Linked DNA regions of Homo sapiens: all the other regions are linked to region 1. Evidence: fine-mapped expression QTL. A gene starts in region 1. Each other region holds a variant in brackets. All regions are shown on one strand. Distances are from middle to middle.

Evidence for each region.
Region 2: its variant is fine-mapped to the expression of PHTF1 in whole blood (TOPMed, PIP 0.96).
Region 3: its variant is fine-mapped to the expression of PHTF1 in NK cells (Gilchrist 2021, PIP 0.90).
Region 4: its variant is fine-mapped to the expression of PHTF1 in whole blood (INTERVAL, PIP above 0.99).
Region 5: its variant is fine-mapped to the expression of PHTF1 in whole blood (INTERVAL, PIP above 0.99).

The regions. Positions count from the first base shown.
Region 1 is chr1:113,756,677-113,761,782 of GRCh38, forward strand. PHTF1 (putative homeodomain transcription factor 1) reads right to left here and starts at 2,810. Exons shown (of 19, transcript NM_001323043.2): 1 at 2,347-2,810; 2 at 1,983-2,057; 3 at 1,023-1,079. The coding sequence starts at 2,027. RefSeq lists enhancers at 1-404, 2,683-3,262 and silencers at 1,450-1,579, 2,213-2,532.
Region 2 is chr1:113,718,767-113,723,872 of GRCh38, forward strand. The region is part of intron 7 of PHTF1 (putative homeodomain transcription factor 1); the gene reads right to left. Among named protein-coding and RNA genes, the nearest start is that of PHTF1, 38 kb to the right of the region's middle. The variant T/C (reference allele first, on the strand shown) is at 2,344.
Region 3 is chr1:113,614,025-113,619,130 of GRCh38, forward strand. It overlaps MAGI3 (membrane associated guanylate kinase, WW and PDZ domain containing 3), which reads left to right. Exons shown (of 21, transcript NM_001142782.2): 7 at 577-634. Among named protein-coding and RNA genes, the nearest start is that of PHTF1, 140 kb to the right of the region's middle. The variant C/CT (reference allele first, on the strand shown) is at 2,861.
Region 4 is chr1:113,861,305-113,866,410 of GRCh38, forward strand. The region is part of intron 1 of PTPN22 (protein tyrosine phosphatase non-receptor type 22); the gene reads right to left. All of the region lies in intron 3 of AP4B1-AS1 (AP4B1 antisense RNA 1), which reads left to right. Among named protein-coding and RNA genes, the nearest start is that of PTPN22, 7.9 kb to the right of the region's middle. The variant G/A (reference allele first, on the strand shown) is at 2,076.
Region 5 is chr1:113,778,443-113,783,548 of GRCh38, forward strand. The region is part of intron 2 of RSBN1 (round spermatid basic protein 1); the gene reads right to left. Among named protein-coding and RNA genes, the nearest start is that of PHTF1, 22 kb to the left of the region's middle. RefSeq lists an enhancer at 2,269-2,318 and a silencer at 2,429-2,538. The variant T/G (reference allele first, on the strand shown) is at 2,451.

The sequences.
Region 1 (5,106 bases):
TCCCCAAATGGCTTAACCCCACAACTCTGACTTTGGAATATCAGAAGATAATTTAACCCTCTCCTCCCCTATTATAAGTTAATAAACTGGCATTCTGAATTATATAACAGTTTTTGGTCACTTGGTTAGTATAAAATAAGAATCCTCTCAGTTCTAAGAGCTGTGTAGAAAAAAGTTTAAGAACCTGAAAAACTTAAAACCATACTCTAGGCCGGGCGCGGTGGCTCACGCCTGTAATCCCAGCACTTTGGGAGTCGGAGGTGAGCAGATCACAAGGTCAGGAGATCGAGACCATCCTGGCTAACACAGTGAAACCCCGTCTCTACTAAAAATACAAAAAATTAGCCGGGCGTGGTGGTGGGCGCCTGTAGTCCCAGCTACTCTGGAGGTTGAGGCAGGAAAATGGCGTGAACCCAGGAGGCGGAGCTTGCAGTGGGCCAAGATCACGCCACTGCACTCCAGCCTGGACGACAGAGTGAGACTCTGTCTCAAAAACAAAACAAAACAAAAAAACAAACAAAAACACATACTCTAAGCCAGTGATTGAATAAAATGGGGGACCATAGGCTGGATTCAGGCCACAAATGGATTTTATTTGGCTTGCAAAGGAGGAGGAGGAAGAGAAGGAAGAGTCTCTTAAAAATCCGACACAAAATGCACAATATATTTCATATAAAAATGTGTATTTCCAGCTTCTCTTGAAAAATCTGAAACTCTGGCAATATTTGGACCTGCACTGCCAAGTGGTAAAAACTAGCCAGAGCTAAGTAACCCCAGCCCTATTTATATGGGACATTTGCTCTCTAATTCATCATAGAACAACTCACTCCTTTCTGTTTTCCTGATAGTGAGGCCAAAAATCAAGTGTCACTTCTCATTATGCTTGCACTGCTTTTCTTATAACCTTCAAAGATTAAAGAATGCCATACTGGTAGTTAAATGCAGAGTTTACCAGGTAAGTACAATTCCACTCTTCATATTAATGCAGTGAAACATAGGCGGAATCAAAGAAATCAATTTACCTTAATCTGAGTCTGTTCGATTGACTTTTCCCATATCTGCTGATCGTAGGCTCCAATCTGAAAGAGGGAGTAGTCTATTAGTTAAACGATGCAAAGGAAATCCTTACATTATTAAGTCAAGCCTCATAAAAGTCATGAGCCTATTAAGTATCAATATGCTATGTGGAAAATATGCTTCTCAAAAGTTAGAATAAATCAATACTTCGAAGGACTGTTTCCTTCAAAAATCTAAAATAGCTGGACCTAAAAGTAAGTTCAAAAGCAATGCCCAAAATATTTCAAATTAATATTACCTTAAAAGATATTTCCACTTCTTGGGCGGGCATGGTGGCTCACGCCTGTAGTTTGAGACCAGCCTGACCAACATGGTGAAACCCCGTCCCTACTAAAAATACAAAAAATTAGCCGGGCGTGGTGGTGGGCGCCTGTGATCCCAGCTACTCCAGAGGCTGAGCCCGGGAGGCGGAGCTTGCAGTGAGCCGAGGTCGCGCCATCGCCCTCCAGCCTGGGCAACAAGAGCGAAACTCCGTCTCAAAAAAAAAAAAAAAAAAAAAAAATCCACTTCTTAAGGAAAAGAGCACTAGAAAAACTAGAGAGGAATAAAAGATAAGGAACAGCTCAATAAGATTGTTGATAGTATCAATCTGAGCTGTGCACATACAGGTTTCATGTCTTTTTTGTTTTTAAGCAGTTTGATCAGAAGCAAACTTTCAAAGCATTGCGGTGGCATTGTGTATGCAGCCTGAAGGAGGTGGCTTGTAAACCTTATTCTGGGACCTGGAACCGGGTTTAAAAGACATAATGACCTTGTACATCTTTTTTTTTTTTTTTTCATTTATGTTGAAGTATACATGAACACCTGGCACTACTAAACTCGGGGGAAAGTAACATTATATTATTTGTGGGAGCTTTTTGCAGGAAGAATGCTTTACAAATAAAAAAAATATATATATGTATTACCTTCTTTTGGTACCACGATATAGCATCTCTCTCATTTGAGGCCATCTGTGTCTCCAGCCAGAGAATGGGATTTCACTGAAAATGAAGGAAAACCAATCGGTGAGTCCAGCTGCTGAAGGTTACTCTCCCAGTTTGGGTAGGACGCGAAAACCGCTTCTCTCAGCCTCTCCATGAGCTGCTCTTTCTCCAGCTGTTTGCCAGGGAAAACACAACAAACAAACAAAAAAAAACTGGCGCAGCGGCGACCGGAGAAGCCTCTGCAATATATCGGGCGAGCGTGTTCGTGGGTGCGGGGGAGGGGCAGGGGCCGCCGCTGGAGTCGCCCGGCACCCGCCTCCTTCGCTCGCCCGCGTCCGGCTCTCACCTAGTGCCCGTTGCCCCGCGGGCCGGCGCCCGGGACCTCCGTCCTCAGTGCCCGGGGTCCCACCGTGAGGCCGGGGGCGAGGCGGCGGGCCAGGCAGGCCGCATCTTCCCCTCCAGGCGGAGACGCCGGAGAGGCCGTTACCATGGAGACCGCGGAGGCCGCCCCAGCTTCGGAGGCAGCCGGCCGCCCAGCGCCCTGAGGGCGGCAAATCGATCGCCGGTCAGAGGCCGCCTACAGGGTCACGGACTGACCAGAAAATAAGCAGAGAATGAACTGGAAAATGAGGGGGATTAAAAGTGAAGGCCTCCAGTCGCCACGGCGACAGCAAAAGGCTTTGTGCCCAGCTGGAAAAGACAGGTGCAAAGGCCCCGGACCCCGAGAGCCCGGGAGCCCGGGAGGAGGAGGCGGCGGCAGCGGCGCTCGTCTTCTGCGGGCCGCGCCGGGATGCAGTGACTCAGCCGTCTGAGATCTGGGCTAGAGCCGCTCAGCCGACCACCGGGCAGCAGCCTTCGGCTTCCGCTTTCCGGCTTTCGCCGCCGAGGTGGCTCCGCCCCTGGCCCGGGGCCTTCCCGCCCAGCCTTGGTCCAGGCTCCGGGTCCGAGGGCCTGGGGAGTCGCGCGGCATATCGATGGCCAAGAGCAGCTCCCTCAGATCACCCTTCAGGCCTCAGCTTAAAAGTCACTTCCTCACAAACGACTCTCCCATCCAGCGGTCTAAAGGAGGTCGGTCCTGATACTCTAGTAGCTCACGTCTTTGTGGCACTCATTTTCGTGTTTCATGGCTTAATCTCTGTTCCCCAGTGGGCTGTGGGCTCCATGAGGTCAGAGACTGGGGCCTGGCACAAGCCTGGCACTTAGGTTCCCAATGTTTGTTGAGCGAACGAATCAATGTTTGCGTGAATTTACGCTGCCCTGGGAGGAAGGGCCAGGCTGCGGCTTAGTGACTCCCTTCCTCTCCCGCCCCTCAGCAGCTCTGGGTCTGGAGCTTTCTAGTGCTCAAAGGTGTAGGGGGAAAAGAGGAACAAGTATTGGGCAGTCACAGCTTTTTCCAAATTAGGGTAAAGTTAGGTGGCGGCAGGAACAGGTTAATTAGGGCCGATAGAGGTCAGGAGAAAGGAAAGAAAGGTTGAACCCTCAAGTGAATATTTAAGGATACGTTAAAAGGATTTTTAGGCTGCTTTTTTTTTTTTTTTTTTTTTGGCCATTAATGGAACACTGTCCCCTTACAGCCATTCTCCCCACCTTATTTGAAGCCGTGTTCTTGCTAGCCCACAGCGTGTAGCATCTGGGTCAGAGAAAGCTAATGACAGATGATAGCTTCACTTAAGAAAGCCTAAGAGGCGCTGTACTCAATGTTTTGCAGACATTATTTCTTCTTATCTATTGAGTGGGCACCAGGTGGAAGTTATCCCATTTCACGGATGAGGAAAATCGACTAAGCTAAAATAACTCCCACAGGACTAAGTTTTACAAATTACTTCACCCAGCCTGGGCGCAGTGGCTCACGCCTGCAATCTGGGCGCTTTGGGAGGCCTGAGGCGGAAATGTAGCTTGAGCACAGGAGTTTGAGACCAGCCTTAGCAACATGGCCAGACCCCGTCTCTTAAAAAAAAAAAATTAGCCGGGGGTGGTGGCGCGCACCTGTAGTCCCAGCTACTTCGAAGACTGAGGCAGGAGGATCGTCTGAGTCCACGAGTTCGAGGCTGTAGTGAGCTATGATTGCACCACTGCACTTCGGCCTAGGCAACAGAGACCTGTCTCAAATAAAGTAAAAATTATTTTACCCTTATTTTTATATTGCACACATTGGCAGTGGTTTCCTTCTGCTTTTGCTCCTTGACAGCTTTTCCTTTCCTTAGTGCTAAACATTACAATTCTGTTGAGCTTCAAGACAAATGGCCAACTTGAAAAAAGAGATAAATGACAAGTGAAAAACGTCGAATTTTGCACACGTAAATATTTAACCTCAATTACATTAATAGCAAAAGTACTTTACTTCACTGTTTGGCACACAGATTTTCAGGGAGTGTCTGGAGGAACTGAATCAGGTAAGAAGTATTAGAGAATAGTGGTAAGTAGTAAACCATTTTTCAGGTGCCCTGTTGGAAACTATTCAGTGCTTCCTGCGGCTACCAGCGAACAAGGTCTGAATCCTTGCTCCCAACCAATAATCTGTGATCTTAAGCAATTTATTCAACTAACAAGCCTGTTTTCTCACCTGTATTATGGAGATAGTCACCTTCTTAAGGATGTGAGGATTAAATGAGAAACCCTCATATAAACTGCCTGGCCCATGGCAGTTACTCAAAAAATGTGAAGTCCCTTTCTTTTCCTTTCCTAGACAGAACCAAAGGCTATCAGTGCTTAGGACAGGTACCTCAATTAAAGATAACTTCACACAAAAACTGATGAGGAAAGAAATCCATTTTGTTGTGTCACATTAATACATCAATGACATAAAAGTCTATACGCCATCTTCATTAATACTCAATGCACTTTCAAGAAAATCCACATCACCAGAATAAAAATTTAAGACTGTCCTCTTTTAAGTAGATACACACCAATTTAAGCAATTAAGAGGCATTAACTACAACAAATGTCAAGTGTATTTTTTCTTCTTCCCCCAAACTAATTGCATCTCAATATGGATGGAATTTTCCCCAGACATCTTTAGGAAAGAAGTCATAAGATTTTCTAAAAATTTTTTTTGAAGTAGTAGGGGATACAGTAGGTGAGGGATTCGTCCTCTAAAAACAGGTTC
Region 2 (5,106 bases), 38 kb before region 1:
GGACACCAAGTCCCAAGGCTGCACACAGCATGGGGACCCTGGGTCCGGCCCACGAAACCACTTTTTCCTCCTAGGCCTCCAGGCCTGTGAAGGGAGGGGCTGCCATGAAAGTGTCTGACATGTCCTGGAAACATTTTCCCCATTGCTTGGGTATTAATGTTAGGCTCCTTGCTACTTATGCAAATTTCTGCAGCCAGTTTGAATTTCTCCCCAGAAAATGGGTTTTTCTTTTCTTCTTTTTTTTTTTCTTTTGAGACAGAGTCTCGTTCTGTCACCCAGGCTGGAGTGCAGTGGCGTGATCTCAGCTCACTGCAAATGCCACCTCTTGGGTTCAAGCAATTCCCCTGCCTCAGCCTCCCAGGTAGCTGGGATTACAAGTACCCACCATCATGCCTGGTTAATTTTTGTATTTTTTTAGTAGAGATGGGGTTTCACCATGTTGGCCAGATTGGTCTTAAACTACTGACCTCAGGTGATCCACCCACCTCAGCCTCCCAAAGTGCTGGGATTACAGGCGTGAGCCACCACGCCTGGCCTGGGTTTTTCTTTTCTATCGCATAGTCAGGGCACAAATTTTCCAAACTTTTATGCTCTGCTTCCCTTATAAAACTGATTGCCTTTAACCACACCCAAATCACCTCTTTAATGCTTTGCTACTTAGAAATTTTTTCCGCCAGATACCCTAAATCATCTCTCTTAAGTTCAAAGTTCCACAAATCTCTAAGGGAGGGGCAAAATGCCACCAGTCTCTTTGCTAAAACATAACAAGAGTCACCTTTGCTTCAGTTCCCAACAAGTTCCTCATCTCCATCTGTTACCACCTCAGCCTAGACCTTATTGTTCATATCACTATCAGCATTGCTGTCAAAGCCATTCAACAAATCTCTAGGAGGTTCCAAACTTCCCACATTTTCCTGTCTTCTTCTGAGCGCTCCAAACTGTTCCAACCTCTGCCTGTTACCCAGTTCCAAAGTTGTTTCCATATTTTCAGGTATCTTTTCAGCAACACCCCACTCTACTGGTACCAATTTACTGTATTAGTTCATTTTCATGCTGTTGATAAAGACATACCTGAGACTGAGAAGAAGAAGAGGTTTAATTGGACTTACAGTTCCACAAGGCTGGGGAGGCTTCAGAATCACAGCAGGAGGTGAAAGGCACTTCTTAGATGGTGGCGGCAAGAGAAAGAAGAAGCAAAAGCAGAAACTCCTGATAAACCCATCAGATCTTGTGAGACTTATTCACTATCACGAGACTAGCACAGGAAAGACCAGCCCCATGATTCAATTACCTCCCCCTGGCTCCCTCCTGCAATACGTGGGAATTCTGGGAGATACAATTCAAGTTGATATTTGGGTGGGGACACAGCCAAACCATATCAAGTAGCTATACTTATATTGGTCAAAATAGACTTTAACTATAAAAAGAGTTAAAGGTCATTATATAATGATAAAGGGGTCAATGCAGCAAGAGGACAAACAATTGTAAATATATATGCACCCAACACTGAAGCACCCAGATACATAAAGCAAATATTATTAGAGTTAAAGAGAGAGACAGACTCCAATACAATAATAGCTGGAGACTTCAACCTCATTTTCAGCATTAGACAGATCATCCAAATAGAAAAACCAACAAAAAAAATTGGACTTAATCTACACTACAGACCAAACAGACCTGACAGACATTTACTAAACATTTTACCTACTGGCTATAGAATACACATTTTTCTCCTCAGTGCATGAATCATTTTCAGGGATATACCATATTATAGCCAAAAAACAAGTCTTAAAACATTCCAGAAAATTAAAATGATATCAAGTATCACCGGGAGGGTACAGCCTCCCTCCTGGCTGCTTTCATGGGCTGGTGTTGAGTGTCTACGGCTTTTCCAGGTGCACAATGCAAGCTATTGGTGGATCTACCATTCTGGGGTCTTGAGGACAGTGGCCCTCTTCTCACAGCTCCACTAGGAAGTGCCCCAGTGAGAACTCTATGTGCGGGTGCCCACCCCACATTTCCCTTCCACACTGCCCTAGCAAAGGTTCACCATGAGTGCCCTGCCCCGGCAGCAAACATCTGCCTGGACATCCAAGCATTTCCATACAACCTGTGAAATCTAGGCAGAGGTTCTCAAATCTCAATACTTGACTTCTGTGCACCTCTACAAAAAAATACAAAAAATTAGGGAGGGAGGGATGTGGTGGCACATGCCTGTGGTCCCAGCTACATGGGGGACTCACACACAAGAATCACTTGAACTGGGAAGCAGAGTTTGCAGTGAGCCAAGATCATGCCACTGCACTCAAGCCTGGGCAACAGACTGAGGCTCTGTCTCAAATA[T/C]TAGTAACAATAAGATAAAATAAATAAATAAAAAGATCATTCATCACGACCAAGTAGGGTTATACCAGGGATGCAAGGATGGTTCAACATACATACAAATCAATTAACGTGACACATCATACCAAAAGAATGAAGGAAAAAAACCATATAATCATTTCAAATGATGATGAAAAAGCATTTGATAACATTCAATATCCCTGCATGATAAGAATTCTCAAAAATCAGGGTATAGAAGGAACATACCTCAAAACAATAAAAGTCAAGTCACATAACAGACCCACAGCTGGTATCATACTGAATGAGGAAAAACTGAAAGCCTTTCCTCTAAGATCTGGAAAATGACAAAGATGCCCACTTTCATCACTGTTATTCAACATAGTACTAGAAGTCCTAGCTAGAGCAATCAGACAAGAGACAGAAATGAAAGGCCTACAAATTGGAAAAGAAGAATTCAAATTACCTTTGTTTACAGATAATAAGATCTTATATTTGGAAAAACCTACAGATTCCACCAAAAAACTATCAGAACTGATAAACAAATTCATTAAAGTTGCAGGATACAAAATTGACATAAAAATCAATAGCATTTCTTTTTTTTGAGACAGAGTCTTGCTCTGTCGCCCAGGCTGGAGTGCAGTGGTGTGATCTTGGCTCACTGCAAGCTCCACCTCCCGGATTCATGCCATTCTGCTGTCTCAGCCTCCCAAGTAGCTGGGACTACAGGTGCCCGCCACCACGCCCGGCTAATTTTTTTTTTTGTATTTTTAGTAGAGACAGGGTTTCACCATGTTAACCAGGATGGTCTCAACCTCCTGACCTCGTGATCCGCCCGCCTTGGCCTCCCAAAGTGCTGGGATTACAGGCGTGAGCCACTGCGCCCAGCCAAAAATCAATAGCATTTCTATATGCCAACAGCAAACAATCTAAAAAAGAAATCAAGAAAGTTACACGATTTCTAATAGTTTCAAATAAAATTAAACACCTAGCAATTAACCAAAGAAGTGAAAGATCTCTATAATGAAAACTATAAAACATAGATGTAAGAAATTGAAGAGAACGCAGCCGGGCGCAGTGGGTCACGCCTGTAATCCCACCACTTTGGGAAACCAAGACGGGCGGATCACGAGGTCAGGAGATCGAGACCATGGTGAAACCCCATCTCTACTAAAAATACAAAAAATTAGCCGGGCACGGTGGCGGGTGCCTGTAGTCCCAGCTCCTCTGGAGGCTGAGGCAGGAGAATGGCATGAACCCAGGAGGTGGAGCTTGCAGTGAGCCGAGATCATGCCACTGCACTCTAGCTTTGGCGATAGAGCGAGACTCTGTCTCAAAAAAAAGAAATTGAAGAGAATGCAAAAAATATGGAAAGATATTCCATAGTTTATGAACTGGAAGAATGACTATTGTTAAAAATATCCATATTAACCAAAGCAATCTACAGATTCAATGCAATCCCTATAAAAATAACAATGACATTCTTCACAAAAATAGAAAAAACAATCCTAAAATTTACATGGAATTGGCCAGGCATGGTGGCTCACACCTGTAATCCCAGCACTTTGGAAGGCCAAGGTGGGCAGATCACCTGAGGTCAGGAGTTTGAGACCAGCCTGGCCAACATGGTGAAACCCCATCTCTACTAAAAATACAAAAAAAAAAAAAAATTAGCCAGGCGTGGTGGCAGGCGCCTGTAATCCCAGCTACTCGGGAGGCTGAGGCAGAATTGCTTGAACCTGGGAGGCAGAGGTTGCAGTGAGCCGAGATCGCGCCATTGCACTCCAGCCTGGATGACAGAGGAAGACTCCATCTCAAATAAATAAATAAATAAATAAATAAATAAATAAATAAATAAATAAAAATAAAAATTATATGGAATCACAAAAGACCCAAAATAACCAAAGCTATCGTAAGTAAAAACAACAAAACTGAAGGAATCACATTACCTGACTTCAAATTGTACTACAGCACTATAGTAACCAAAGGAGCATGGTAGTGGCATAAAAACACATCGGCCAATGGAACAGAATTGAGAATCCGGAAATAGATCCATACATCTACAGTGAACTCATTTTTTTTTTTTTTTTTTGAGACAGGGTCACACTCTGTCACCTAGGCTGGAGTAAAGTGGTGAGATCCTGACTCGCTGCAACCTCTGCCTCCCAGGTTCAAGCAATTCTCCTGCTTCCACCTCCCGAGCAGCTGGGATTACAGGTGCCCACCACCACGCCCGGATAATTCTTGTATTTTTAGTAGAGACAAGGTTTGGCCATGTTGGCCAGGCTGGTCTTGAACTCCTGACCTCAAATGATCCCCCCGCCTCAGCCTCCCAAAGTGCTGGGATTACAGGCATGAGCCACTGTGCCCGGCCAACAGTGAACTCAGTTTTGACAAAGATGCCAAGAACATACATTAGAGAAAGGACAGTCTCTTCAATAAATGATGCTGGAAAAACTGAATATTCACATGCAGAAGAATGAAACTAGACCCTTATCTCTCACCATATGCAAAAATCAAATAAAAGTTAATTAAAGAACTAAACCTAGGACCCCAAACTATGAAATGACTAAAAGAAAACATTAGGGAAACTCTCCAGATGTTGGTCTGGGCAAAGATTTCTTAAGTAATACTCCACAAGCACAGGCAACCAAAGCAAAATGGACAAATGAGATCACATCAAGTTAAAAAGCATCTATATAGCAAAGGAAACAATCAACCAAGTGAAAATACAACTCACAGAATGAGAGAAAGTCTTAAATTATCCAT
Region 3 (5,106 bases), 140 kb before region 1:
AAATACAGATTACACAAAGCACTGTGGTAGTTAGATTAGTGTTCCTTCAGATACTCAGATCTTGTTCACCAAGAGAAAGCAGGTACTTTTGTAGGTTTTAAGCAAATCTAGATTGCTCACTTGAAATGACAAAAGTCCAAGGCTAGGGTTTCCTTTGAGGAGAAGTGGGTCTGAACATAACATCAAAAATGACTATGTATAATAGTAAAAAATTGAACAGATACCTGCTTCTTCTATTGGACTACAAGGGTAAATATGTCTTGTGTCAGCATGATCAAGGTTTTTAAATGAAAGAAGTACACAGTAATTTTTATTAGCATTTTTATGGCTTGTGGTTCATATGAACACCTTTTTGTTTAATGCCATCTTCTGTTCTGGGCTTCTGATTGCTTGCTGAAATTCTCACTGGCTGGTGAAGAAGCCACTCAGACTTAAATTGTGTTTGTTCCTTGAAAGTGAGCCCTCAGCTTTCTGACACCCAAATATTAGTATAATGAAATAATAAATTCACTCACTGGTGAATTCTTTTCTGTCAGTTTTGAATCTGGCATTTCACTCAATTTTCTTTATTTACAGAGCTTCCTTATGGCTGGGAGAAAATAGAGGACCCTCAGTATGGGACATACTATGTTGAGTAAGTTTGTTACCTCAGTTAATATTCTCCCAAATATTTTCCTTTCAGCATATAGCTTTAGAGAATACTGGATACAGCACTTTATGCTTCTGTGATCCAGCTGTTGAGTTTTTCAACTAGGGGAATGAAAAGGTAGGGGCAGTGAGCATTTGCTTCATTGACCTTGGGCTTCCTGGAAGTTGGCTTTGAATTTCTAAATATAGAGAATAAGGGGGAAGTTGCCTAGACAATTAATAGCTAGAGATGGTATTGTTACTACTACAGCCTCTAAAGAGAAAGTCAGTTGATAGAAAACTGAAATGAGGGCAACAGACTAGATGAATTATCAAGGTCATTTCCAACACTACCACTGTATCCTTCTGAAAGCAGTGGAAGATCTTTAGGGCATTATAACATAATTATCTGAAGTTTTGAAGCATACACCTAAAGGTGTGCTCTCTTTTAAGGAGTTATTCAAGGAAAACTTAGTATTCTTTTTAGGGGTGAAAGTTGCTTCTTAGGCAGCTGCTATGGTTAAATTTAAACATAAATATATATTGGAGAGGAGTGCCAGACACCTGCCTATGTTAGCCAGAGAAATTAAGCTAATATCAATGTCTAATTTTGCCTTCTCTTTTCTTTATCTAATTGCTACAATGTTATGACCATTGGGATTGCTTTCTTTCCAGATGCTAAACACTGAATTTGACCTCAAGCGTCTAGCAGCAGGCAAATACTTCTATCAGAAACATTACTATTTACCTGGAGACTAGGAGTTAAACCTGCTGCCTAGGTAGCAAAGACAAAATGTTATTATTACCTGAAAAAGTAACAAACACAATCATCTTTAATTTTATAATTGTTTCTTAATGTTTCAACACTTATAGGCATAAACCAATGCCATTTCCTGGTAGTTATCCCTAAAGTAAGTATCTCTGACTCCTGTTGCAACTGTAGTCTTTATTCTATTGTGCAGGTTGTTACTTGAGTCACTGTGGTTAGAGGGATTTTTGGAATGACTTCTTAAAATTAAATGTGTCTCCTAAGGAAATGACTCAATTAGATTGACACTTAAGTATATAACTTTAGAATTTCAATATCTTGGTTCCTTTGAAAGCTATGCTAATTTTGTTTCCATTGTGTTACTTAATGTCTTACTGATACTGTGATGTAAAAAGTATACAGCAGCTCTTTTATTATTATTTTTTCCTAAGACTTATTTTGTTAAAGGAAGAAACAACCATTTTTCACATCAAAGGAGTATTTGGGGGCCGACTGAAAAGGTTTTGCAGGATTTTTTTCTTCCCCTCAAAGTTTAGTCTATTTAAATTGGGCTCTAATCAGCTATTTGCCATTGACACTGCTGAACATTTCTGAGATAATGATTCTCATTCTCTTTATTATCCATTCCAAGTGAATTTGAATACATGGTCAAAAGGTGAAAGTCATTTGCCTGTTATAAAACCTTGAGCTGAATGATCTGGTCCCCATTATGCAAAGATATAATATTAAAGCAACTTTAGGGCAAATCCTGAAGCGACCTGCTCCTAGTTGTCAGGGAGGTACATGAAATAGCCTGAATTAGAAGCAACAGCAGCAGCGACATGATTTTGTATGATTATTCCCAGAATGAGCTCATTTTACAGGAGGGTTTTGTATTAGACTAAGAAGGAGCAGACTGTACTCAAGATGCACATTAGTATGGAGTCAGCTGAGCTGTGGAGTGTGGCTTGATTCCCAGATTAGTTAGGTTTTGAATCTCGACCATAGTAATCTGCAGTGAGTTTACTGATGGAGATAAAAAGCTGTTACTTGAATGGCTACTCTTTGGCTCTCTTAGTTTGTCAAACCAGATGGCACGATGATTGCTCTTGGCAGGAGCCTTGTAGTAGTAACACCAACTGCAGTGGTAGTTTTTCTTTGTATTTATTTTAGAGGATGGGATTCTGAAATGGATGAAGTTATTTTTTAAAATAAAATTTTTCCAAAAATGTAATATGCTTATAATATGCATAAATATAAATATGCATAAGCTATAAATATGCTTATATATTTAGAAATGCGGTCTTGATTATATTGCATTACATGTCTTTTTAAAATTAACATATAATTATACACATTTTGGGGGTACGTAGTGATGTTTCAGTACACGTAATATATAGTGATTAGATCAGGGTGATAAGCATTAAATGTCTTGATGCACCTAGATGACAAAGTCAAAATATATACTTGCTTTCACAACTAAAA[C/CT]TTTTTTTTTTTTTTTTTTGAGACGGAGTTTTACTCTTGCCCAGGCTAGAGTGCAGCAGCACGATCTTGGCTCACTGCAACCTCCGCCTTCTGCCTCCCAGGTTCAAGTGATTCTCGTACCTCAGCCCCCCAGTAGCTGAGATTATAGGCATGCGCCACCACACCCACCTAATTTTGTATTTTTAGTAGAGATGGGGTTTCACCATGTTGGCCAGGCTGGTCTTAAACTCCTGACCTCAAGTGATCCACCCGCCTCGGCCTCCCAAAGTGCTGGGATCCCAGGCGTGAGCTACCATGCCCAGCCATCTAAAACTCTTTATGAAAGAATATTTTGTTGAGATAAATTTTTAAATCCAGATATTAGACATAAAATTTTAATACAGAAAATGTGTCAAATTGTGTACTAATATTTAATCATTCTTGTTTGCTTTGTTTCTTTCTGATAATCTGTAATATTCTCCTCTCTTATTTCCCACAGCTAGTTATTTGGAAAACAAAATTTGTTGTGTCTTAATAATAGTGTAGGTATAAGTAATTAAATGAAAAGGACAGTATTTTCACTTTTTTATTTTTTGATTTTTTTTGAGTGGCATTTTAGTCTAGATAGTCTAAGATAATGAAGACAATAACTTCCTTCAGTAAATCTTATATTCTTTTGTCAAATTTTTAGGAAAAGGATTACTCATTTGCATACGTCTACTCTCCTCTCCCACACATTACAAAGGGTATAAATACAAATTACTACTTTTTATGTTCTAATGCCTGGGTGGCAAAGTGAGTCATTCTAGCCAATGACTTTAAAGTGAAAGTGAGCCAAGGTTCTTTCTGAACAGGTTTATTCTTTTCTGAGTGTCAATTTTTAGTTGTTTTTCAAAAGAATATGTAAAATATCAGTACCTAAATAAATTTTTTAAAGTAGTTCCTAGGATTTTTATTTTCACAGAGTTAAACAGTTAACTCAGTGGACAGTGTATCCCCCGCATATTATGAAGCAGAAGCATACTTGAGTGTCAGTGAAATCAGAACCCAAACAATGTCCAGTGGCACTTACCATATTTAGAGCTCTTAAACTATTTAATAAGTAACTACGTCTGTTGTGGAACTGATATGTAGTAGTAGCCTGAGTGACATGGAGAAAGCTAACATTCCTTTTTTTGAAAGTGTTTTTTTAATTTTTAAATTTTTATTTTAGTCCCTGCTGCCCATTTCTCTACCACCACTCTTAATGTTTACAAATGGCAAAGCTCCAGCGTGGACAACATAGTAAGACCCCATCTCTACAAAAAAAAAAAATTTTTTTTAATTAGCTGGGCATGGTGGCACACACCTGTGGTCACAGCTACTCAGGAGGCTGAGGTGGGAATATCGTTTGAGCCTGAGAGGTTGAGGCTGCAGTGAGCTGTGATTGGACCACTGCATTCCAGCCTGGGTGACAGAATGAGTGCCTGTCTCCAAAAAAAAAATAAATAAAGAAATAAAAAGGCAAAGTAAATGTTCAACTTGTGTGACTATTTATATGTACATTTTGTAATATTCAGTCTACCTAAAAACAATCATGTTCTGAAATTCTCATGATTTGGTATTTAATTGTTGGTGTTCACTCATATCACCTCTTTATTTTTATTTTTTATTTTTTTTGCCGTGGAGTTTCACTCTTGTCGCCCAAGCTGGAGTGCAATGGCATGATCTCGGCTCACTGCAACCTCCGCCTCCTGGGTTCAAGTGAGTCTCCTACCTCAGCTTCCTGAGTAGCTGGGATTACAGGCATGCACCACCACGCCCAGCTTATTTTTGTATTTTTAGTAGAGATGGGGTTTCACCATGTTGGCCAGGATGGTCTCTATCTCTTGACCTCGTGATCTGCCTGCCTTGGCCTCCTAAAGTGCTGAGATTCCAGGCGTGAGCCACTGCACCCGGCCTCACTTCTTTAATTAAAGTGGAAAACTGTAGCATATGCTGAAATATATTTGTACTATGGAAGTGTTAGAATATGATTTCCATTGCTTCTGAATTAGACCTATTCGAGGTCCTAAACATCTTTTTTACAGCATTTCCTTTCTTAACCAACTCCACTTAACTGGCTTGCCAGAAGAATAGTGCTCTTTTTCTTCTGTAAAACATACTATCGCCCATAGCGTGTTGAATAGTTTGGCTAATCTCCTAGCGGCTAGTCTCCCCAGGCTTCCTGCTTTCTCTCAGAGAGTTGTATGCATTCCAAGAGTCAGTAGTGAATGTTCCCAAATCAT
Region 4 (5,106 bases), 100 kb after region 1:
ATCTCGGTTCACTGCAACCTCTGCCACCCAGGTTCAAGCAATTCTCATGCCTCAGCTTCCAAAGTAGCTGGGGTTACAGGCGCCCGCCACCATGCCTGGCCAATTTTTTGTATTTTTGGTAGAGACGGGGTTTCACCATGTTGGCCAGGATGGTCTGGAACTCCTGACCTCGTGATCTGCCCGCCTTGGCCTCCCGAAGTGGTGGGATTACAGTCGTGAGCCACCGCGCCCGGCCAATTTTTTTTTGTATTTTTAGTAGAGACAGGGTTTCGCCATGTTGGCCAGGCTGGTCTTGAACTCCTGACCTCAAGTGATCCCCCCACCTCGGCCTCCCAAAGTGCTGGGATTATAGGCATGAGCCACCGCGCCCGGCAGGCTTCATTTTTCTCTTCCACCTCTCTTCCTGCCAGACTCCCGGGCTCCAATATCCCAAGAAAGAACAAATTAGGGCAAAATTAGGGCAGAAAAAGTAATAAACTACACCAGAAAAGGAGGAACCCTGAAAGTAGAAAGCAAAAGGGTATAAAAGAGGAAGCAGGGTCATGGGGATGGGTTTAAGTTTGTGAAGAAAAGATATGAGATCTAAAGGGTGAAGGTATTTCTTTGCCAACTACAAGGTAGGGGTGTGAGTTCCCTAGAGGAAGTACCATCAAGAGAAGTCAGGGGAATAGTTGCCAAGAGGATAAAGTGAAGAGACTGGGTGCGGTGGCTCACACCTGTAATCCCAGCACTTTGGGATGCCGAGGCAGGCAGATCACTAGGTCAGGAGTTCGAGACCAGCCTGGCCAGCATAGTGAAACCCCGTCTCTACCAAAAATACAAAAAAAATTAGCTGGGCATGGTGGCAGACCCCTGTAATCCCAGCTATTCAGGAGGCTAAGGCAAGGAGAATCGCTTGAACCTGGAAGGCAGAGATTGCAGTAAGCTGAGATCACACCACTGCACTCCAGCCTGGGTGACAGTGTGAGACTCCGCCTCAAAAAAAATAAAAATAAAAATAAAAAAGAGAATAAAGTGAAGAGAGAGCTCAACATCCCTCGTGGGCCCTGAAATAGGGTGGAATGTGTGAGAAACCAGATTCTGTGTGTGCTTGATAAGCTAATAGTAAGTTCATTTGGTTTGTAGATGATACTACCCCTTTCGTTTCAAGAAAGGAGAGGAGAATGGGGATCCTGGCCAGTATAACAAGGAGTATTAGATTCTAGAAATTCGGATTGAGTCATTTGCATGTTATTCTCACAGACTAGTAAATAAAATAAAGTCACTCCCAAAAAAGAACAGAAAGTAAAAGAAAGCACAAGACCACGATATCTTTGCCTTGAAGGACTACATTACTGGATAGAAGACGTAGCATTTTAGATACATTTTAGGGAGAGGAAAATTAAACTTGGCCCTCCTGTGCTAGGTGGGAGAACACAAAGTTTGGCTGTCTCGAGAACTCTGCAAGGTAGTTCCTCAGTGCCTTGCAAATATAGGTCAGTATTATACCAAGCCTCCATCAGGACAGAAGAAGTACAAGTGGTAAGGAATGGCATTAGGAGCTCAGGCTTCTAAATCCAGTAATCAGGAGAACTACCAGTAGGAATGGAGGACAAGACTGAATTGTACGAGCGTGCAATGCAATCATCTTCAACAAGACTGACAAACTTATCGAGGTTAGTTTCCAGTGCAATAGTGGGGCAAATGGGTAGGTGGGTAGGCAATAGCTAAATTGGGGTGAGTAAACCAAGAGGTTCAACTTTAGATACATAAAATGTGAGAAAATGGCAAGAAATGTGTGTGTTGTTGGTTGGTTGGTTGGTTTTTGAGACAGAATCTTGCCTTGTCACCCAGCAGAGAGTTCAGTGGCGCAATCTTGGCTCACTGCAACCTCTGCCTCCCAGGTTCAAGTGATCCTCCCACCTCAGCCTCCTGAGTAGCTGGGATTACAGGCACCTGCCACCATGCCCAGCTAACTTTTGTATTTTTATTAGAGACAGGGTTTTACCACGTTGGCCAGGCTGGTCTTGAACTCTTGACCTCAAGTGATCCGCCTGCCTCAGCCTCCCAAAGTGTGGGGATTACAGGCGTGAGCC[G/A]CTGCGCTCAGCCAAGAAATGTGTTTTAAGTGTCCTGTGAGTAAATGAAAATGTAGGACTAGATGGTCCCTAGTGAGAGGCTGGAGATGGTGTTAGAGAAATCAGCTTCAGAGGTGATGTGATACATTTATTCTGGTGGTGGCATTTTTAAAAATTGCACCTTAATGTGCACAAAGGTCAAGAAATGCTGATAAATATGTTCAAGTGATAGGCTGATTCACAGGAATGAGTAGTGTCAATTCATAGATGTTTGTGCACTTGCTCTGTAGGAAGTACCTTGTTGATAACTGTTTGGTTAGTATCATTACTATAATATACACAGAACCAGGATGTATCTATGTCTCCTTTATAGAACCAAGATGTAGCCAGATCTTTGATATGTCTCTGGTCTTCTAATGAATCTCCAGAAGTTGCAATAGTACCAGTCTGATTTCTAGTATAGTTTAAACTGTTAGCACCTAAACCTGGCCTTCAGAACTAGGTATCTTCTTTCTGTTAGGATTCAATGAATCCTTTATATTTAATAAATATATATATATATATATATATTTTTTTTTGACATGGGATCTCACTCTGTCATCCAGGCTAGAGTGCAGTGGCGCGATCTCGGCTCACTGCAACTTTGCCTGCAATCCCAGCTACTCGGGAGGCTGAGATAGGAGAGTCACTTGCGGTGAGCCAAGATCGCACCATTGCACTCTGGTCTGGGCAAAAAGAGCAAAACTCCATCTCAAAACAGACAAACAAACAAACAAACAAAAAACTGAAATTGTGGTAAGTGCTATGAAAAATAACAAATGGTGCTAATAAGAACTTACAATAGAAGATTTGATCTATTCAAAGAGGTCCAGAAAGCTTTCTCTGGCCAGGTGTGGTGGCTCATGGTTGTAATCTCAGCACTTTGGGAGGCTGAGGCTGGAGGATCACTTGAGTCCAGGAAGTCAAGTCTGCAGTGAGCTATGATCAAGCCACGGCACTCCAGCCTGGGTGACAGAGCAAGACCCTGTCTCCAGAAAAAAAAAAAAAGAAAGAAAAGAAGAAAAGAAAAGAAAGCTTTCTTTGAAGAATTGACCACCAAATTGAGATCTAAAGAATTATTAGTCGGGCATGGTGGCTCACACCTGTAATCTCAACACTTTGGGAGGCTGAGATGGGAACCCTAGAGGTTGAGGCTGCAGTAAGCCATGATCACACTACTGCACTCCAGCCTAGATGACCAAGTGAGGCCCTGTCTCAAAAAAAAAAAAAAAAAAAGGCCAGGCATGGTGGCTCACGCCTATAATCACTTTGGGAGGCCAAGGTGGGCAGATCACGAGGTCGGGAGATCGAGAGACCATCCTGGCTAACACAGTGAAACCTTGTCTCTACTAAAAACACAAAAAATTAGCCGGGCATGGTGACACACACCTGTAGTCCCAGCTATTCAGGAGGCTGAGGCAGGAGAATAACTTGAACCCAGGAGGCAGAGGTTGCAGTGAGCAGAGATCGTGCCACTGCACTCCAGCCTGGGTGACAGAGCGAGACTCCGTCTCAAAAAAAAAAAAAAAAAATTACCAAATGTTATCTAGGTAAAGAGGAGTGTGAGGAATGTTCAAGGCGGAGGTAACAACATGTGTGCAAGGCCCTATGGCAGAGGAAGCATGGCAAGGACAAGAAAATGAGCATGCTATAAGAAGCTGGAGAGACACCATGTAGGACATTGATAGCCATTTTAAAAGGTTCTTTGGGAGGTAAATGAAGTTCTATTTGTGAAGCACTTTTAGCACAGAGTCTGGAACACAGTTCTATGGATTAGCTGTTGTTACTGTGGAAAGTAGATGAACAGAAAACGTATATAAGGAAATGCAGATTTAAAATAATCATGGAACATTTTAAGGCTCAGAAATCCAATGAATGAAATTAACATAATAAAGTACTATTTTATGCTAGTTATATCAGAAAAAAAGTCATGATTTTTACCTGATACAGTTTAAGTACAGAGGTTAAGAGGCTTTGAAAAAAAACAGACTGGTTTCAAATCCGGGCTTTTCCATTTCATGGGTAAAAATGAACATAATATTTTCCTCTTGGGGTAGTTGTAACGATTAAACGAGATCACGTACGGCAAAGCACTTAGCAGATTGCCTAGTACATAGTAAGTAGGCAAAATGTTTTCATCTTTTATTCTCTTTTATATTTATTAAGTCTAGCAAGGTGGTAGAGAAGATGATAAATTCATATATTGCAAATTAGAAAAACTCCTTTGGAAATACATTTGGTAATACTTAACCAATTAGATGCTAATAGTCTTTGACCCAGTAATAACATTTTTGGGGATCTAGCCTAAGGATTAATCCAAAAGAAGGGAAAAACCACATGGAAAAATATATTCATATTAGTGTTATCAATAATCATGAAAAACTAGAAATAACTGTTTAACAATGGAGAAATAAATTATTTGGGTATTACTATGTCTCAGGAAGTTTATATACTTATTATCTTCACAGCAGTTCTTCAAAGTGAATATTATTCCCACATTTTACTGACTTAATCCAAGGTCACATAGCTAATCATGGGCATAACTTAAATTCAAACCAAGATTTATATGACTCCAAAGTTTTTATGACTTCAGATGACAAAGCAAGACTACCTGAAATTGAAATTCAGTTCCACCACTTACTAGCTATGTGACCCTGAGCAAGTTAATTGACCTCTCTGTTTGTTTCCTCACCTATAAAATGGAAATGAAAACAGTACCTTCCTCAATGGAGCAAATGAGTTTATATATGAGTGTTTAGAACAGTGTCTGTAAGAGGTATAGAAGCATTCTCTATTATGATTATTATTCTTTCATTATAAAACCAGATGGACAGGCTGGGCGCGGTGGCTCACACCTGTAATCCCAGTACTTTGGGAGGCCAAGGCAGGCAGATCATGAGGTCAAGGGATCGAGACCATCCTGGCCAACATGATGAAACCCCATCTCTACTAAAAATACAAAAATTAGCTGGGTGTGGTGGCACACTCCTGTAGTCCCAGCTACTGGGGAGGC
Region 5 (5,106 bases), 22 kb after region 1:
GTGCGCCACCATGCCTGGCTAATTTTTGTATTTTTTTAGTAGAGATGGGGTTTCAACACGTTGGCCAGGCTGGTCTTGAACTCCTGACCTCAAGTGATCCACCCGCCTTGGCCTCCCAAAGTTTTAGGAGTACAGGTGTGAGCCACCAAGCCTGGCCCCAATCTTTTTCTCTACTCAACTTATGACAAACTTATTTCTACCTCCAGTGATTTTTCTCTTGAATCTGCCCAATCTGGAATGTCCTCTTTTCTGTCAACCCAAATCGTATCCATCTTTCAAAGAGCAGTTCAAAAGCTCTTTTTTTCCAGAAGTCTTTCTGGTCACACTCCATGATCTCTCCCTTCTCTGAAGTCTAATGTTACCTATGAGCAACATATATTTTCTCTATATCAACTCTCCAGTGAATTTAGGACATATCCTACATAAATATGCAGCCCAGAGCATCCTATCTAGCATCTGAATGGAATCTATCATTAATTCCATACAATCTGATACTATTCCTCTAGTCATTTCATGTATGTTCTTATCTTATGTAATCTCCAATTTAGAGTTTCTCAAGGATAGAGAGATGGATCCTGTACATAGCAATGGACTAGACTAGAAATGCTGTATTTAACCAGAATTTCCACTTCAGATCAGTTACCTAGCATTTTCTACCTCTGTTAAAATGCAGATTAAATTTAAAAGCCTAACATATAGCTGTACCTTTATATAAAATGGCTCTTTAATGAACATTAAAAAAAATTTAAAGAATCTACTGTCATGTTTTAAATACCACCTATTTTGCCTTAATAGGAAACAGTCTACATAAATGACCATCTAGGATATCTTACCACAATTCTTCACCATTTGTTCTTTAGCAGCATTTTTAGAATCAATTTTTTTCCATAGACAATTTAACATCACCCACACATATATACACAGAAAAAAAGGCTGTAGATCTTGTTCTCAAATAGCAGGGGTAGGGATTTTTTAATTCCTTACAAATCCTCCCCCCAAGATCACTTTAGATGATTCTTAAGCAGCAGCCACCCAGGCCAGAATTACTTTATATATATTCATATGAATTACTTTCCATAAGTTTGGTATGATCATCATGCCATAAAAAGCCAGGGGTGGCAGCATGGAACAAAGGCTCATCATGGGATATAGAGATAAGGAAGGGGAAGAAAGGTAAGTCTTTTTAAATCATTATTCTAACCTTTCTAAGCACTCTAAAACAACTAAAGTAGATTTAACCTTCAGCAACATTTCTAGGAATCATATGCTTTTAGGGGTAATAAGAAATTATCAGTCTCGGCCAGGCACGGTGGTGCATGCCTGTAATCCCAGCACTTTGGGAGGCCAAAGCAGGTGTATCATGATGTCAGGAGCTCAAGACCAGCCTGGCCGAGATGGTGAAATCCCGTCTCTACTAAAAATACAAAAATTAGCCAGGCACGGTGGTGCATGCCTGTAGTCCCAGATACTCGGGAGGCTGAGGCAGAGAACTGCTTGAACATGGGAGGCGGAGTTTGCAGTGAGCCAAGATCGTGCCACTGCACTCCAGCCTGGGCGACAGGGCAAGACTCCGTCTCAAAAAAAAAAAAAGAAATATCAGTCTCCCCCAAACACCTCTCCCAACTATTCCCAGTCTCAGAAATTCCTTTACTAAGAAAGGCTTTCTCTCTATACAGGCATTTTATGGGACAAATGTCCTAAAGACCTATCATGATCTTTTTAAAATCTTTTTCCCAGCCAGAAGTGACTCTTAAGACCTATCCTAATTTAAAGCAGCCAAAACTCAAGACCAATCCTAAAGAAGTACACTGCCATGTGGCAGTTTTCAATTTACTTGGCCTGAGATTATACAACTCAATGCATTATTAATTTGAAGGAATTCATACTACTTTAAATTTTACACACAAAGTGAGACTGAATTAATATTCTTATATCACACCACTCCAAGTTTACCTAATTCAAACACCACTAAACTCAACAGCACTGAACTTGAAGACAACTTAGAAAGGTAAACACCTAGAATAATCAACATGTGACATGAATAAATATGAAGCATCTTTTCCTATTTGCAAAGAGAATAAAAAGTAAACCTAAAAAAGAGGAAGGCGGGAGCAACAGAAGACAAAGAAAGGGTATGACCACAAAATATAGCGACCTCATAATTTCGCCAAGACCAACATGTTTATTTTCATATATACACAAAGAAAAGCTTCTCATCTTACGAGGATCTTCAGGTTCACACCTTTGTGTGAGTACCAATGTTGTATCCATGAGTGACAAAGAATTAACAATGTTCAATTTTTATTTCCTGGCAGAAGAGCCATCAAGTAAACAACTATGCTACAAAATACTAGGACTGGATTTTGAAAGCTGCAATGTATAAAGCCTATTTGGATAACTGTAGCTAACTTAGCCTAGCTAGAGAAAGCCCTTATTAGTAAACCACAACC[T/G]TCCTGTTTTCATTCCTTTACTTACATGAAATTAGACCTCTAGCTTTCTGTGACCTACGTTTTTTTCTCAGTATCAGTCCCCTCCTTCTTTCAGCTGCTTCCATATCTAGTCTAAACCTCAAGGTTTATCCCTCTCTCATAAACACACTCTCATCCTCTATCCCAGTCCTTCCACCAGCCCTGCCTGCAAACCCCAGGCCTGAAACATTCAAACTATCCATCCCACCTCTGGACTTTTCCATTCCATAGGCCAATAAATCTCTTTCATCATTTAAGCCCATTTTAAAATTGACTATCCTGCAACTTGCCATCAAAAGCACCAAGATATATATACCTTTTTCACATAAGAATCCTACTTCTGTAATACTAGTCTGTAGTACCTGTCTCTATTGCCTCACCTCACCTTTTATTCACATCTCATATCATTGCAATCAGGCTTCTGCCCATACCACTCCCCTGAAACAAATCACTGATGACCTCTTCACAACCAAATTCAAGGAATGCTTTGCAATCACCTGCTTTCTTGATTTCCCTTTCCAGGCTTCCTCCTCTCCAAAACGTGGTTGTTGCAGAGTTGGCCCAGTTTTCATTCCACATATTATCTGTGGGTGGTTTCAATTATACTACAGATTTAACTACCACCTGTACCCTACTACATTCCATATCTACATCTCTAACTTAAAACTCTGCCTCAGATTCAGATCTTAACATACAAATGCCTCCTGGGCAGCCCACAGACACCCTCAAATTTAATACCTACAAAACAGAGCTCGTTTTTTTGTAAGGTTCCCTTCCCCTCCCAAACCTTCTTTTTCTCCTTCTGTATGTACTTCGCCGGTTAATAATATTCATTTTCTCAGGTCCTAAATCAGGAATTGATAAATCCCTCTTCCTCATCACTTAAATCAAAATCTATCCTTCTAACTAAATCTGCAGTACCACTGCCTTAATTCAGGAAATTATCATTTCTCACCTAATTGTAAAACCTCTTAACCAGTATCCTTGCTTCAGGATTCCTATCCCCAAGAGCCATCCTACATACTGCTACAAATAATCTAGGAAAAAACATCTTATCATTCAACCTTCCCATTTTAAATCCTTTAGTAGCTCCATATTACCTGTAGCATCAAACTAGAAAATCCTTTTTAAGGAAGACAAAGCCCCTCCTGATCTATTATTCCAAGGGAATAACAGACCAAGATTTGCCACATTCTCCACATTTGCCACATTCTAAATATACATTTCGCAAATTCTAAATAATTTCTGCTGCCTCCACAAGTTTTCACATGTTATTGTCCACCTTTACAACTCCTATATTTCCTTGATGGTATAAAATGACTCAAAATAAGGTTTCAAGCTCAAAGAACGAAAGTACATAACATTTACAGATTTTAGGTAAGTTAGATTTGGAGTTATAACTAGATCAAAAAAGGTAAGGAATAGATGCATAGATTTGGAAATTGTCTATAACATATAATTTTTTAAGTGACTAAGACTTGAGAGAAAGAATAGAAAGAGACAGAACCAAGAACTGCACTTAAAGGAAAACAGATATTTGACAGACAGGAGGAAGAGTTAGCTAAAGAAATTGTGAAAGGATGAGTTAAGAAGTAATGCAATTAAAATGATGTAAGAATAACGTTTCAAAAATGGTCAAGGACAACTATTTTTTAAGAAAAACAAACTGGCTGTTATGAATAGTGCTGCAATAAACATGGAAATGCAGATCTTCAACATACTGATTAAATTTCCTTGAGTTGGACATATACCAAGAAGTGGAATTGCTTGGTCATGTGGTCGTTCTATTTTTAATTTTTTAAGGAACATCCACACTGTTGACCATAATGTCTGTACTAATTTAGATTGACATTAACTGTATAAAAGTTCTCCTTTTTCCATATCCTCACCAGCATTTATTTTTTGTCTTTTTGTTAACAGCCAGAACTGGGGTGAGGTGATATCTAATTGTAGTTCTGACTTCCATTTCCCTGATGATGAATTATGTTGAACATTTTTTCATATACCTGTTGTATGTCTTCAAATTTCAGAATGTCTATTTAGGTCTTTTGCCCACTTTTAAATCAGATTATTTCGTTGTTGTTGTTATTGGGTTGTTTGAATTATTTACATAAATTTTAGGCCACAGGGCAGAAAATACTATCTGGTCCTTAATAGAAAAAGTTTGCCAACCCCCAATTTAAACCACTCACAAAAGAAATCAAGCAATATGTTTGAATACAAACTTTGTGAAAGAGAACAATCTGTATTATTCAATATTATATATCTGTAATACAAAGTGCCTGGTATGTAGTCATAAATATTTGTTGAATTTCTGTATGTTAAGGCTAGAAATGAAGTAATCAACCACAAACTCTGGCAAAAAGAAAAAAAAGGGGTGGAGGGGGAGAAGAAGAACTGCTGATTACCAGTCTATCACTTGCATTTAAAAATTTAATAAATGCAAATGTTTGTGATACATTTAAATAATTAACAGCATAACAATGAACAGCAGTTATGACCACAAATTCAACATGCACCAACTTTCAACCTGAAAAGGCTGACAAGAAAAAAAAAAAGAGAGAAAAAAATAGATAAAACAAAAAAACATTCACCAACTGTAGGAAACTAATGCCAAACAAGCAAAGTATTCCTTCTT